Homo sapiens: one gene and its partner. The protein of the gene in region 2 purifies or fractionates together with the protein of the main gene of each other region. This does not show direct contact. Each region holds a gene or a part of one and is shown on either strand. Other genes may lie near its edges.

The links. Proteins that work in one complex are often made in the same cells at the same time.
Region 1: the proteins of GMFB (region 2) and RAB3GAP1 purify together in Homo sapiens (co-immunoprecipitation; 2 studies listed by BioGRID and IntAct, with this or other methods). This does not show direct contact.

What each region holds. Positions count from the first base shown.
Region 1 is NC_000002.12:135,160,292-135,167,291, reverse strand, and holds part of RAB3GAP1 (rab3 GTPase-activating protein catalytic subunit), read right to left. Parts: intron 4,738-7,000; coding exon 4,641-4,737; intron 4,545-4,640; coding exon 4,441-4,544; intron 4,307-4,440; coding exon 4,191-4,306; intron 2,699-4,190; coding exon 2,596-2,698; intron 1-2,595. UniProt on the Homo sapiens protein: Catalytic subunit of the Rab3 GTPase-activating (Rab3GAP) complex composed of RAB3GAP1 and RAB3GAP2, which has GTPase-activating protein (GAP) activity towards various Rab3 subfamily members (RAB3A, RAB3B, RAB3C and RAB3D), RAB5A and RAB43, and guanine nucleotide exchange factor (GEF) activity towards RAB18.
Region 2 is NC_000014.9:54,478,922-54,486,074, forward strand, and holds part of GMFB (glia maturation factor beta), read right to left. Parts: intron 4,847-7,153; coding exon 4,750-4,846; intron 3,282-4,749; coding exon 3,232-3,281; intron 2,538-3,231; coding exon 2,488-2,537; intron 2,036-2,487; coding exon 1,953-2,035; intron 939-1,952; coding exon 865-938; intron 1-864. UniProt on the Homo sapiens protein: This protein causes differentiation of brain cells, stimulation of neural regeneration, and inhibition of proliferation of tumor cells.

The sequences.
Region 1 (7,000 bases), on a different chromosome or scaffold from region 2:
TTATTTGCTGAATTCCATTTAAGTATGTACATACCAGAGATACCTATAATCATGATAAGGCTTATTACTATTTATAATTTTAAAGAAAAGTTATAAATATATAGAATTACTATAAGCTATAAAAACACCAAGTGAAATTACATCACAACTTTTTAAAAAAATGTGTTAAAATCTTGACTAATTAGTAAAATTGATATAAAGTATCAGCTAATGAAAAGTTACATGAATAAATTCTAACAGTTTACTTCAGCCAGACATTTAAAACTGAGTTTAAAAATGTACCAACCAGATGCTTGTTATATGTATTACACAGTCTACCAATTCCCTAAAAACATTCACTACAAGGTCTGAAAACTTTAAAATCTTTTCTTAAATGACATAATGTAGATGGATGTACAATTTCAGTAGCCATTAAGGGGGTTAGCTATACAATGAGGCTACTGAAAGATGATATACTATGTTCCTGTATTTAGTGATTTTGAAAGATATCTTAAGTATATTAAGTGGAAAACAAGAATAATGAAGTAATTATATAATATAACCCTACTTTTAAAATTATATATACATATGTATATACTAGATGTTAAATCATCAATGGGTAGTGAGATTATGTGATTAATATTTTCTTATAATTTTCTAGGCCAGGTGTGATAGCTCACACACACCTATAATCTCAGCACTTTGGGAGGTTAAGGAAGGAGAATTGCTTGAAACCAGGAGTTCTAGATAAGCCTGGGCAACAAAGTGAGACCCCGTCCCTACAAAAAATATAAAAATTAACTGGGCGTGGTGGTGCATGCCTGTGGCTCCAGCTTCTTGGGAGGTTGAAGCAAGAGGATTGCTTAAACCTAGGAGTTCAAGGCTGCAGTGAGTTATGATCTTGCCACTGTACTCCAGCCTGGACCACAGAGTGAGACCCTCTCTTTAAAAAATGAATAAATAAATATAAAAGTTCCTATATTGTCAAAGTTTTACTTGCAGTCAGTAGAGGGGGTAAGGAGGTTATTTCTATTTTGGGGAAAATAATTTTGCTTAGTTATCTAAAATAAGTAACAATCTCAGGACTAAAAATATAAATACTTCACATTTTAAATCCTCTTAACACATAACTTTTTTTTTTTTTTTGAGATGGAGTTTTATCACCCAGGCCGGAGTGCAGTGGCATGATCTCAGCTCACTGTAACCTCTGCCTCTCGGGTTCAAGTGATTCTCCTGCCTCAGCCTCCCAAGTAGCTGAGATTACAGGTGCTCACCACCACGCCCAGCTAATTTTTGTATTTTTAGTAGAGAAAGGGTTTCACCACATTGGCCAGGCTGGTCTTGAACTCCTGACCTCAGGTGATCCACCCACCTCAGCCTCCCAAAGTTACAGGCGTGAGCCACCGCACCCAGCCAACATGTCACTTATTAAAAATGATCAAAGAGGAAAGAATTTTTGCAATATGAGGAACATTCATATTGGTAGCTAACAAGGAAATGCGCTTGTAAGCTTCTGGGTAGTGAACTGGATAGATATTATCAGATGTGGAACCAAACTCGGTTCTTGTTTTCATGCCAGAGAGAAAAACAAAATAAATCAAAGCAAGCATCTATTGTTTGCTAGAAGTCTAATTTATAAGGAAATAAATATTTGGTTATTAATTTGAAATTCTGAGGTTTAGGGAGCTGCCCCATAAACAAACTCAGATTTTAGCTCTTGCTAAGAATTCCTATCAGTGTATTTGGCTATGAATTTGAATATATTAACTAGTTGTACTCCAGACCAACTCTACAGGGATTATCCAGTTGTTATTCCACGTGTAGACACATAGAAATTCTTTTTCTTATTTGTTTCTGAAAATTACACTCTCAAAACTGGGTCATTCTAGTGTAATCACAGTGCCATATAAGGGGAAGCGTGTAATTAGTGCACATAACGCCTTTATCAGAATCCCTAATATTAATGAGCCCTGAACTGAGAATTATCTGTAGGATGCCAGAGCCCTTAGCCAGTAACCAAGATACAATATAATTTTAAAATCTTTACTTTCACTACTAGAGGTAATGGTTATGATAATTTTTCAAACTGGGCTTTCTTTCTGTGCTGAAATCTGTTTCCACAGCCCTAAAAATCTGAAGTTTTCCTCTTCTTTTCTAGGAAACCTCAAAGGTAGATCTCCTCACCATTACAAGAACAATTATATTTATAATTCAAGCTGAGTTGTGACTCCACTTTGCCCTACATGGGGTTTAAAGATGGTAAAACTGAACTCCATTCTCATTTGAAAGTACCTGTGAGTAAACATTTTTTCCCACAGCACAGCACTGGCCATTGCTAACTGACTCCCTGCCAGCTTCTATAACAATGGATTTTGGACTCTTCTAATTTTTAAAATTTAGGTCCTAGAATATACTTATCATTTTAATTCAACATGTAAGAAATCAAATGGATTTCGAAGACTCAGAAGTCATTGTTTCTTCAGTGTTCAAACCCAATGCCCAGACTTACACTCAGGTGACATGAGTGTGATCAGCCACGTGTGGGAACTAAAACAGCCTCTTCCCAAGTAGAGGTTTGGAGAGATTATGATGGAGTCAATAATGACTCTCACATACCCTCTGGGCATTCACAAACAGCTTGTGAATGATCCTGCCAGCATGTCCTCTTCCTGCACCGGTGACTAACACTTCAGGCTGCTCCAGCAGGCAACTCACAAACCTAGGAGACAGAGACAGGCAATGAAAGGGTGGAAAGTGAGCTGTCCAGGCCACTGGGCGTCCATCCTCCCACAGGAGTTTTGTGGACAAATCCTCAAGCTGATACTGGCTAAACCCAACAAGGTTGGAGTGAAATTTTACAGCAAGATAAGATTGACATTTGGAATTATTATCGACTTAACTGACAATCTTCCTGCTTTTTCACCTGTGCTCATAAAAAATGTTTAAAGCCTATCTCTGTCAAAGTGTAAGAAAAAATATTCAGTCTATTTTTTTCAGACTAGAAGCTTAGAAAATGCTACAGTTAATAAAAGATGAAAAAAAAATTGTATAATATAAACCAAGTTATATTTATCCAATAAAAGCAATGATCCATATTTGTTTTTGTTTTTTTTAAGGGGTATGTGTCTGTGTGTGCACGCACACGTGCACATATGCTTAAAATACTTGTGTTGGGCAAAGTCGCAATTGTAAACTGTGCCATTAGATGCTGGAAACACTGAACTTCCAAGTATGTCACAGATAACGTATGGTGGAACTAACAGAGTTGAAGGCACAAAGCCACCAAACCTGCACCACCTGCTCACTAATTCATACTCTACTATTTTAGAAACGAGTCCCTTGATTAGAGCTTATTCTTCTCATTTAAAAGGAAGACATTTTCAAGAGCAAAGCAGTGTGGGAGAAAACTTCACCTAACAAAAGACATAAAATTCAAACACAAACTTGTTAAAAGACAGCAAATGCCTTGCCATACAATATTAATTATTTAGCATCAATAATGCCATTTATTATGGAAAGGCTAATGAAAATTTTTAAATGATGACAAATTTAAGCCACTGAACAAGCTAATTTGTGAACACTTTATCACACATTAAAACAATATTGTCCTTCCAAATAACATGGGCAAAAAATGAACAGGGCCTCACACTGATCTAAGCTCCATTGGTAATGGTGCCGAGTCTCATAAAGAGAATGCCCCAATCATTTGCTTCATCTGAGAAAAGCCATCTGGTCAATCTTTCAAAACATAATCGCAAGGCACATAGGATGTGCACCTTTGCTATCACAAATCTTGTTTAAAATAAACAACTAGGAACAGTAAGCAGAAATGGTTTCAGCACCTGCACCCTGTGGTCAAGGAATAGTAACAGCTGAAAACAAAGTTTTGGGGCAGGGTGAGCAACACAGTTAACAGCTCCTCCACAAGAAATTCCAGACACCACATCTCCAAGAGCAAACCAAGGAATCCCTAGAAAAGGAGGCTCTGGGAGACTGTTTCTAAAAGTGGGAAGAATGGAAACACCTGGTAGAGACTCAGAAATACGGGAGAGGTCAAATGCTATGATAATTATTTCTGTCTCTAGACAATGCTTGTTTCAAATAATATATGATTACCACAAAAGAGTCTTAATATCCTATTACAATTTTTCTTAAGAGAGTGGTGGCTTTTCCTACTGCAGACAAAACTGAATTAGCCAAATAGCAATTACCTTTCAAGATCTTCCTTTTCCTCCTCCTGTTCACATTTCTCAGTTCCAAACTTGGCTTTTAGTGACCGAGCTCTGGCAATGAGAGCTTCCACATTAGTAATCTGGTGAATGATTTCCTGGCGGTAGAAAAGGAAGAGGCATACATTGCGAGATGGCAAAAAAGCAAAGCCCTTTGAAAACGCATCTTAAAAATTATTTTTGCCAACTGAGGAGAACACTTGGCAAGATTCTGACACTACATCAAACTTACTTCCAATTTCTTGTCTTCTGGATTGGGGAAGTGCAAAACTTTACTGGAATGGGATATTATCTGCTTTATGATCTTCTTAACTGAAGAAATGTTTTCGAGACTTTCTATTTTAGAAAAGATTGAAGCCAGCATTAAATAAATTAAGCAAAATATACTTTCACTTTGGAAATGACTAATGACTAGTTAAATATGACATTTACCTTCTTCCTTTACCTTGAGTACAGCTGCATGAATCACACAAGGTAACAGGTGCCGAGCAAGGTCTGCAGGTTTCTGGATTGCCAGATAGTGCAGCACCTGAAGGAGGTGCAGCGCACACAAATGATCAGCGCAGGTGTCAAAGGATGAAGCAGCCACTTACAGAAGTGCAAATCCTCAGCCACTCATCTTAATCCTTAACAAGACAGCACTCCAGATAGGCAGCCACGACCCCAAAGGTGAGGATAATGTTACTGAAAGCACCTAAGAACTTCAATCTTTAATAATTATAAATATTCTATTTTTTTCTGCTTTCTTATGTAATACACACAAATAAGGAAAATACAAAGAAAATAAAAACTACCGACTGATTACAATACCAAGAGAAAACAACCATTGACAGTGGAGCATTTTCATTTTAAGACGCAGAATACACGTACTAAGGGCACTAATATTAAATATGTAAAATACTGCCTTTTAACCTGCTTTTCTCACTTAATATTTCTAAACATTGTTAGTGACTTCCCACACATTTTTTGGTTTTAGTTGTTTTGGTTTATTTTTTTTCCAATTCTTATTATAAGAATACAGAGAAGTATGTACAAAACATGGACCCTACCTTTAGGCTCCTTATTCAACAGTAAAGATAAAAGAAGTATAACCCTATAAATATGTACAATTCTTTTACATCAATAAAAATTTTAAGAAGTATAATCTCATAATGTGAGTCTGACTGATAAATGCTCATGGATTTCAAAATTTTAAAAAAAATACAGGTGATGCAGAAATTTTCCTGAAATCCTACTTCCCCAAAACCACATTTTCGTGTTTATCCTCTCAAACTACTTGTATGTCCATTTAAACACAAAAATGTAGATGCATATGTAATTTCTTAACAAAAATTAATAACTTACATACTGTTTTATTATTTGCTTTATTTAATGACTTGTGGTGGACTTTTTTTTGGCTTAGAGAGTTTTGTCTGATTTGAAACTTTTTTTAAATTAAGAAATATACATACTAGAGTATTAGAAATAGTTTAAAGAAAACACCAGCTTAGGAAACAGAATGTTACCAGGCTTTTCCAAGTCCTCCTGTGTACCCTCCATCCCCAGAATTAACTACAAATCATTCTTTTGCTTTTCTTTATGGTTTTTTTCACATATGTAGCCTTAAATAATATATTGTTTACTTTTGTCTAGTTTTAACCTTTATATTAATGGAGTGTTTCTGTTTATAGCCCTCAGTGACTTGCTTTTTTTCATTCAGTATTTTGATATTCGTATACCATTCCAATATGCTATAGTTTACTCATTTTCACTGCTGTATTAAAATGTTCCTACACTAATAGTAGTGGATAGCTCCTCAGTTTTTGGCTATTACAAATGATGCTCCTATTACATTATTGCACATATTTCCTGGTGCAAATGGGACATGTACAGCAATTACTTTAGGATATATACCTAACAATTGAACTAGGAAATGTACAACATAATTATCCTACAAAGTGTTTCAACAGATTTACATTCTTATCTAGAGTAATGAGTTCCCTCTGTTGTACATCCTTGCTAATACCCACCTTTCTGAATTTTGTTTTCCCCTGATTCACAGAAAAACAAATTTGCAGGAATAACGTGAAATATGTGATTCCCCTTTACCTGGATTCACGTATGACCTGTCTCCCTCCTCTGTTCTGGATCCCTTGCATCTTTCTCTGCTTTCATGTGTGTACATACTATAGACATAAACTTGTTTCGAATAATTTCAGAATAAGTCGCACACTCATGTCCCTTATCCCAAAATATCTGTATTTCCTAAAATTAAAAATATTTTATTATATAATCAAAATGCAAATGATTCTGATTATATACAATAAATTTAACACTGATAAAAATAATTGTAATCTAACCTACTATCTTTATTGCAGTTTTGTCAACTGATCCCATATGTGTCTTTTTTTTTTTTTTTTTTTTTTTTTTGAGACAGGGTCTTTCTCTGTTGGCCCAGACTGGAGTGCAGTGGTGCGATCTTGGCTCCCCACAACCTCCGCCTCCCAGGCTCAAGCGATTCTCCTGCCTCAGCCTCCTGAGTAGCTAAGACTACAGGCACATGGCCACTACTGCCCGGCCAATTTTTGTATTTTTAGTAAAGACGGAGTTTCACTATGTTGGCCAGGCTGGTCTCGAACTCCTGACCTCAAATTATCCACCTACCTCAACCTCCCAAAGTGCTGAGATTACAGGCATGAGCCACCGCGCCCGGCCGCAAAATGTGTCTTTTATGACCCTTTCCCTCAACCACTACAAGTCTTGGTAAGGATCATCCATTGCCTTTAGTTATCATAGCTCTTTAATCTCAACTA
Region 2 (7,153 bases):
GACTTGAGGCCGTTAACAGCTCCTTCTTAACCACCCAAACCGTTAGAGCAACTCCAGTGTCCCTGTGTTACAAATCAGGAAAAAGTAATGTCTATAAAGCAGTGGTAACAATCACATGGGCTAAGGGGAAACAGCAGAGGGCACTTAAAGGCATTCCAGAGTTGATTATTAAGCACCCAAGGGGAAAATACTGATGCTGTTCTTAAAATAAAACTTGAAAGGAAATACTGTCTAACACAGTTTTGGCAATATAATATCCTATTTCAAAACCTTAAGTGCATATACTTTTTCAATTCAAACTAATATGTGGAAGTTAAATAAAGTTTGAGAGCCAAGTACCTCTTACCTTTAACTTTCAAAAATACCATAAAATAGGGACATGTTAAATCTTAAAGCAAGTTCTCATATAAAACAGAATGTTCTAACTTTATTAATATTCTTAACAATTTTATATTTGGAAACAATACAATTAACTGCATAATACTGAATTCCAGCACAGAACTCGGTTCATTTTAGACTATGGTAAAGGGTTCAGAGAAACTTCAATGCTGACCCTTATCTATTAGAAATTACCTTATGGCAGATAAACTAACTCTCAATAGATTTAATAGTTACAGTGGCTTTCTAACACTGCCTATATTTTGAATGTGATTTCTTCCAATCAACTTATTCAAAAAATACACTTTGGTTCAAACGCTTCTATCTCATTCTATTTCCAGTTAACAAAAAGCTTTGGCTAACTTACTAATCTGGTCTAAATAACCTTCACCTGCATAAAAAATACTCCTTTAGACTATTTTAGCTATTGCTTTATAGTCTAAAGGAAAATATTGTCTCAACAAGTCAGTCAAATATAAATACCACCTTGGTTAGTTCAGCTGTCTGGACTAGCTTATTCTTACTTCCAGCATACATCATCTGTTGTTCAGGCTTACATCCTGGAAAAGAGAGATTAGTGTAGAAATGAGACACAGATTTTGAGAAAGGTATGGGTTATCATTATTTTTATTTTTTAAAATGACACATTTAGGATTTCCTTTGCTATTGAGTTTACAGAATATATATGGGTTGTATTTTGAGTCTTACATTGCACACTGCCTACAGAAAGAGACAGTTAAGTTATAAATAAACAAGAACAAGTCTACAGGTTGGCAAAAATAAAGATTCTAGACATTTGTAGATCCTGACTTTTAGAGCCTTGCAAACAATTAAAAACTTTCTGCACTATCTTAACTTTGACACTAAATATCAAGATCAATTTTATGGATGACTAAAATACACAAGGTTTTGGGATGGTAGTGGACCAGTAGGGCAGGGAGATCTGCTCTGATAAAAGTTTCACTCTGCCGATATATTAAGTTAAAAATATACTGCAGTATATTTTGAGTGGGAAGTAAATTATACAAATTATGAAGTTTGGAGAATAGCTCAGTGAATGCAGTTTTTATTGCAGGCCTGAACAGTGGTGATAGAAGTTCTGGTGATAATGAATTCCTTAAATACCAGTAACCCATTTTAATACCCAATGTAAATTACTCTAGGACCATTCTCAAGATTATAAGCATATCACTGTTAACTACTATTTAAAAGAAACACAAATATATGCAATTATATGTGAAGTTCACATTTTTATATGATTAAAATATAAAAAGAAAATACTTCTGCTATATTAGAATGTCATCACGTTTCAAAATCCTTAAAATACATGTATGATTTGAGTCAACAATTACACGTCTAGAAATTTATCCTAAGAAAATAAGTTCTAAGAGATGATGCTTCATTCTTTCTAGGGATGCATGCACACAGGCACATGGACACACATAGACACAGACCCTCCTCAATTTAGGTTATTCAACAATGTTCATCTTTAAAAACAGCAGAAAATTTGTCTAGTATAAAATGGCTTAATTGGATCTAAGCCAAATATGTGTTATTTAAAGAAATTCACTTACCAACAGGACTGGAGAAAATAAAGCACAGAGGATATGAAACTCTTCCATCATCATGTTGATATTTATAACTATACACAATGAAGGTTTTTCTCAAGTTAAAGAAACTAAAGTTACTGCTCTCAGACAGGTATTTACCAACACCTGGGGAGCTACTGAGCTGCAAGTTTCTGTCCTATTCTTTTAGGCCACACCTTCATTATTATCTTTCCACAAAATTAAATGGGTTCCAAGGATAAGTTATAAAATCACATAATCTCTCAAAAAATTTAACTTTTTAAAGTACAAGTTTAATACAGATTATTTTCTCAATTTTTATTGTACACGTTATAATAAAGGAAATAGTTTTAAAAAGAAAATTATTCATCCCACGAATAAACCAACTTTTCATTTTTCTTAGTCTAGTATATGCACACATATTTTAATTTGGCTGTCATCATGACACAGAAGGATACTTTTAGATGTTTAACAAATGAGCTCACAAACAGGTCTGACCACTAAAGAAAATAAATCTTTTAAAGCACTAAGAAAAGGATATCGAGGTTGTCGTTCAGGTAGTTCATCTTTAAGTTCATCTGGTGAAATGCCCTGGCACCACAGAGAAAAGCAACTTTTAAACATTTTCTTACCCATAAGTCCTTAAGAGATACACCAAGCACCCATTCTACTAACAGTTATAAATTTATTACCACATGCTACAAAATAAAATTTTATCTTACTAAATTATACATAAACTCAGGTTACTAAATTCTCAATCCAATCAAAGCCTCCTTCTGCCCACTTGGTTTCATTCCATTTATTAAGTAAATATGGGGCTGGGAGGCACAGATTCTATGCTTATGTCCCAGCTGTCAGGAAATACTGAATGACATAAGCCAGTATCTTAGCGGAAAGAAACAATGTCTGATTTCAGAAAAAAGAATTGAATTCTTTTTACTCTAGTTACTTAATTTGACAAACCAGATATTTAAATTGTAGGGTTTCAGGTTTTAAGTACTAGTCAAGCAACTTAGAAGCAAGTTACAAAGTTGACTCACTTCTTACTCAGTATATGACCCCAACTTATACCACTTATTACACTGGACTTCACTAATGCTTTTAAACAAGGTAGTTAAATTAGCAATATCACAAACTACACAATTAGCACATGCTTTTATGCATAATGAGCATGTATTTAAAGGAGGTTCAAGATTCGTTTTAGAAGCATATGTAACTAATATAGCATCTTTTGAGAAATAATAATTACTTAACTATAAAATTGTATTTAGTTCATTGAACAAACCTCAAGCTCCTCATCCAGTACCACCAGGCGTTTATCCTTGTCAATCTTCACTAAAATAAAAATCAAGTATGAGTAAGCTGGGATTCTAATGTGACCCTGATCTGCCCAACCCACACAATCTCAGCCTTTTTTTTCGGACATCTAAAATTAAAACATCAAGAAACAGAAGCATATAACTAATTCACAGTTTTAGTTTACGGTTTATTAGCTAGCTTTGCTTTTCAAGCTGTCAGCTTTTAAAAGCTTTTACCCATAATTCCCAGTACCTAATTTGCTTATTTAGAACTTGCTGTTAATTTCTTACATTTCCTGTGTATATGAAAGAACTTTGTAACTCAAATCCAACTTCTAGATAATAAGAAAAAGCCTGAAAGGGTAACTGTAACTGATTGGTCTATATGCAACATGGTCAGAACTGCAAGGGAAAAAGTGCCTGATCGGGGATCAAAATAGAGAAACCTCAAAATTCCTGGCTTCTCCAAGGTCAGGATTTCATGGCACGGTATCATTATTCTAAGAAAGTGAATAACCAAATAGAAGTGATATCTACATTCAAATATATCTAATGTAATCCAAAGCTAAATCAAAATAAGTTTAGATACTCTATGCCTCTATCCTTTCCTGTTAGTCTGGCAAAGTTGACCATGTTTGGTTTTGCACCAATTTGATAGTAAATCTTGTGAGATATAATGTAATCTCAAATAGTTTCAGCTTTTGCAGTAAATGGCACTAACACACATTTTCACTTTTATTTTTTTTTCACTTTTAAGAACCATATGTCGACATTGCAGTATTTATTTATAATGAAATCAGAATTCATGACAAGTTGTCATGACCTCTGATTAAATCACATCTGCCAGATGCATCTCTGTTAAGCATGGTCTCTAGAGTTTTACATTTTCACCCCCTCATCCTTTCCTCATCTTTCTAAATCACTACCTACATATTAAATACTGCCTATGAATACAAGGGAAATCTGCATAATGTCAGATATAGCTCACAGTGGGAGGAGCAATATGCAAATCACTTTTTCCATTTTCAGAAGATAGTGCCAGTGCCACTTAAAAGTACTCTTCCTGAAACCAGAGTTCAAATCTACAACTGGAATAATGCCCAAAGTCACTATGTACACAATGCTGAACTTTGTCATTTTAGGTGTAGGCAAAGGTTTCTATTTGAGGATGAATGGCCAGGCTATTTTTAGTCCCCCAAGAAGGATGGGTTGGATGGGTCACTGCAGATGGGAATCCTCATTACCCAAGGACCAAGACGACCGCCTTCTCCAGAGCTGTACAGGCAGCTGATAAAAGGACTATGGGGGAGGTGGGACAATCCACCTCTGTTCTGTGACATTAGAATTAGCTGTTACTTATTTTTTAAAGTGATCTAAAGGTGGTGGTGGGGAAATGAAACAGAGGAAGTAACATTGCTTTCCAACGGTTCAGTTCATTCAATGTAGCTACAAGATTAAAAACAAATTAAGACCATGTAACTTTGAGGCAATCACTTTTAGCTTACTTATAATAGCAGCGTTGTTCGTTTCTTTGCGAAAACGAAACTTTCTCAGCTTTTCCACTAAATCTTCGGCAACATCACAAACAACCAAAGACTCACTCTATAAAAGAAAAAAAACACACATAAAATGCCATGACTTCAATATATGTACATGTTAAAGTTATGAAACCTAATACCTTTATAATGCATACTGACATTCACAAATGTCAATTAAGTGAAAGCATTAAATACATGAACACTTAAAAGAACTTTAAAATCAACCAACCTTTGGATCTACATTGCTTAATCCTACAAATTTGTTCATCTCATATATGTAAGGTATATTTTAACTTTCTCTTTGGCTAATGAATGTCTCAAAAACCACACACATAATAATGTGCAATGTCATCAGAACTGGAGAGGAAGGGAAGAATATGGGGAAAGTCAAGAATCACTGTCTGCTGTTAGAAAGGGAGTCAAGCATACTATTTTTACACAGTGAAGGAAGAACAAGAAAATAATCTGATTATACTTAGAATTAATAAATTATTTTTTGTCCTCACAATTACAGGGGAAAAAAAATATAAGCAACAAAAGTGTTAAAAACCCCATAAGAGTAAAGACCAATAATATTTTATATTATAATTAAATGATTATAGAGATATAAAAAGGAGCTACTAAGAATGTGCAAAAGAAATAAAAGCAGAGACAAAAAGAAACATTGCGATTGATACCACAGAAATACAAAGAATCATTAGAGACTATTATGAACACTATAACAAAATGGAAAACCTGGAAGCAATGGATAAATTCTTGGACACACACAATCTACCAAGACTCAACCATGAAGAAATAGAAAACCTGAACAAACCAATAATGAGTAATGAGACTGAAACAGTAATAAAGTCTCCCATCAAAGAAAAACTCAGGATCTGAGGGCTTCACTGCTGAATTCTACCAAAGATTTAAAACACCACTTCTACTCAAACTATTCAAAAAAATTGAAGGGGAGAACATACCTCCAAGCTCATTCTACAAGAACAGCATTACCCTGATACCACAACCAGACAAGTATACAACAACAAAAAAAAACTATAGGTCAATATGCTTGATGAACATAGATGCAAAAATCCTTAACAAAATACTAGAAAACCAGATGCAACAACACATTAAAAAGATCATTCACCGTGATCAAGTGGGATTATCCCAGGGATGTAAGAATGGTTCAACATGGGCAAATCAATAAATGTGATACATTACATTAACAGAATAACAAAAATCGTATCATTTCAAGAGATGCTGAAAAAACATTTGATAAAATTCAACATCCTTTCATGATAAAAACCCTCAACAAATTGGGTATAGAAAGAACACACCTCAAAACAATAAAGGCCATATATGACAAACCCACAGCTGACAGCATACTAAATGGGGAAAAACTGAAAGCCTTTACTCTAAGTTCTGGAGTAAAACAAGGATGCCCAATTGTACCACTTTTATTCAACATAGTACTGGGAGTCCTAGCCAGAGCAGTTAGGGAAGAGAAAGAAATAAAAGACATCCAAGTTAGAAAAAAAGAAGTCAAATTATCCTTGTTTATGACAACATGATCTTATATTTAGAAAAAGCTAAAGACTCCATTAAAAAAAAAACTATTAGAACTGATAAATGATTTCAGTAAAGTTTAGGATACAAAATCAACATACAAAAATCAGTAGCATTTATATACAACAACAGGAAACAATCTGAAAAAGAAATCAAGAAAGCAATCTCACTTACAATAGCTATAAAAAATTTAGGAATAAATTTAACCAAAGAAGTGACAGATCTCTACAATGAAAATTATAAAACACAGATGAAAGAAATTGAAGAGAACATACAAAAATGGAAAGATTCCAAGCTCATGGATTACAAGACATAATATTGTTAAAATGTCCATACTAACCCAAAGTGATCTACAGATTCAATGCAATCCCCATCAAAATACCAATGACATTCTTAAAAGCAAGAGAGAAAAGATCCTAAAATTTGTAAGGAGCCACAAAAGACTGTGAATAGCCAAAGCAACCCTCAGCAAAAAGAACAAAGCAGTACTTCAAAATATACTACAAAACAATAGTTACCAAAACAGCATGATCCTGGCATAAAACCACACACACAGGCCAATGAAACAGAATAGAGAACCCAGAAGTAAATCTACACATTTATAGCCAACTCATTTTGGACAATGATGCCAAAAACATACACTGGGGAAAGGACACTCTCTCCAATAAATGGTGCTGGGAAAACCAGATAGCTATATGCAGAATAAAACCAGACCCCGGGCCGGGCACAGTGGCTCACGCCTGTAATCCCAGCACTTTGGGAGGCCGAGGCGGGCGGATCATGAGGTCAGGAGTTCGAGACCAGCCTGGCTAACATGGTGAAA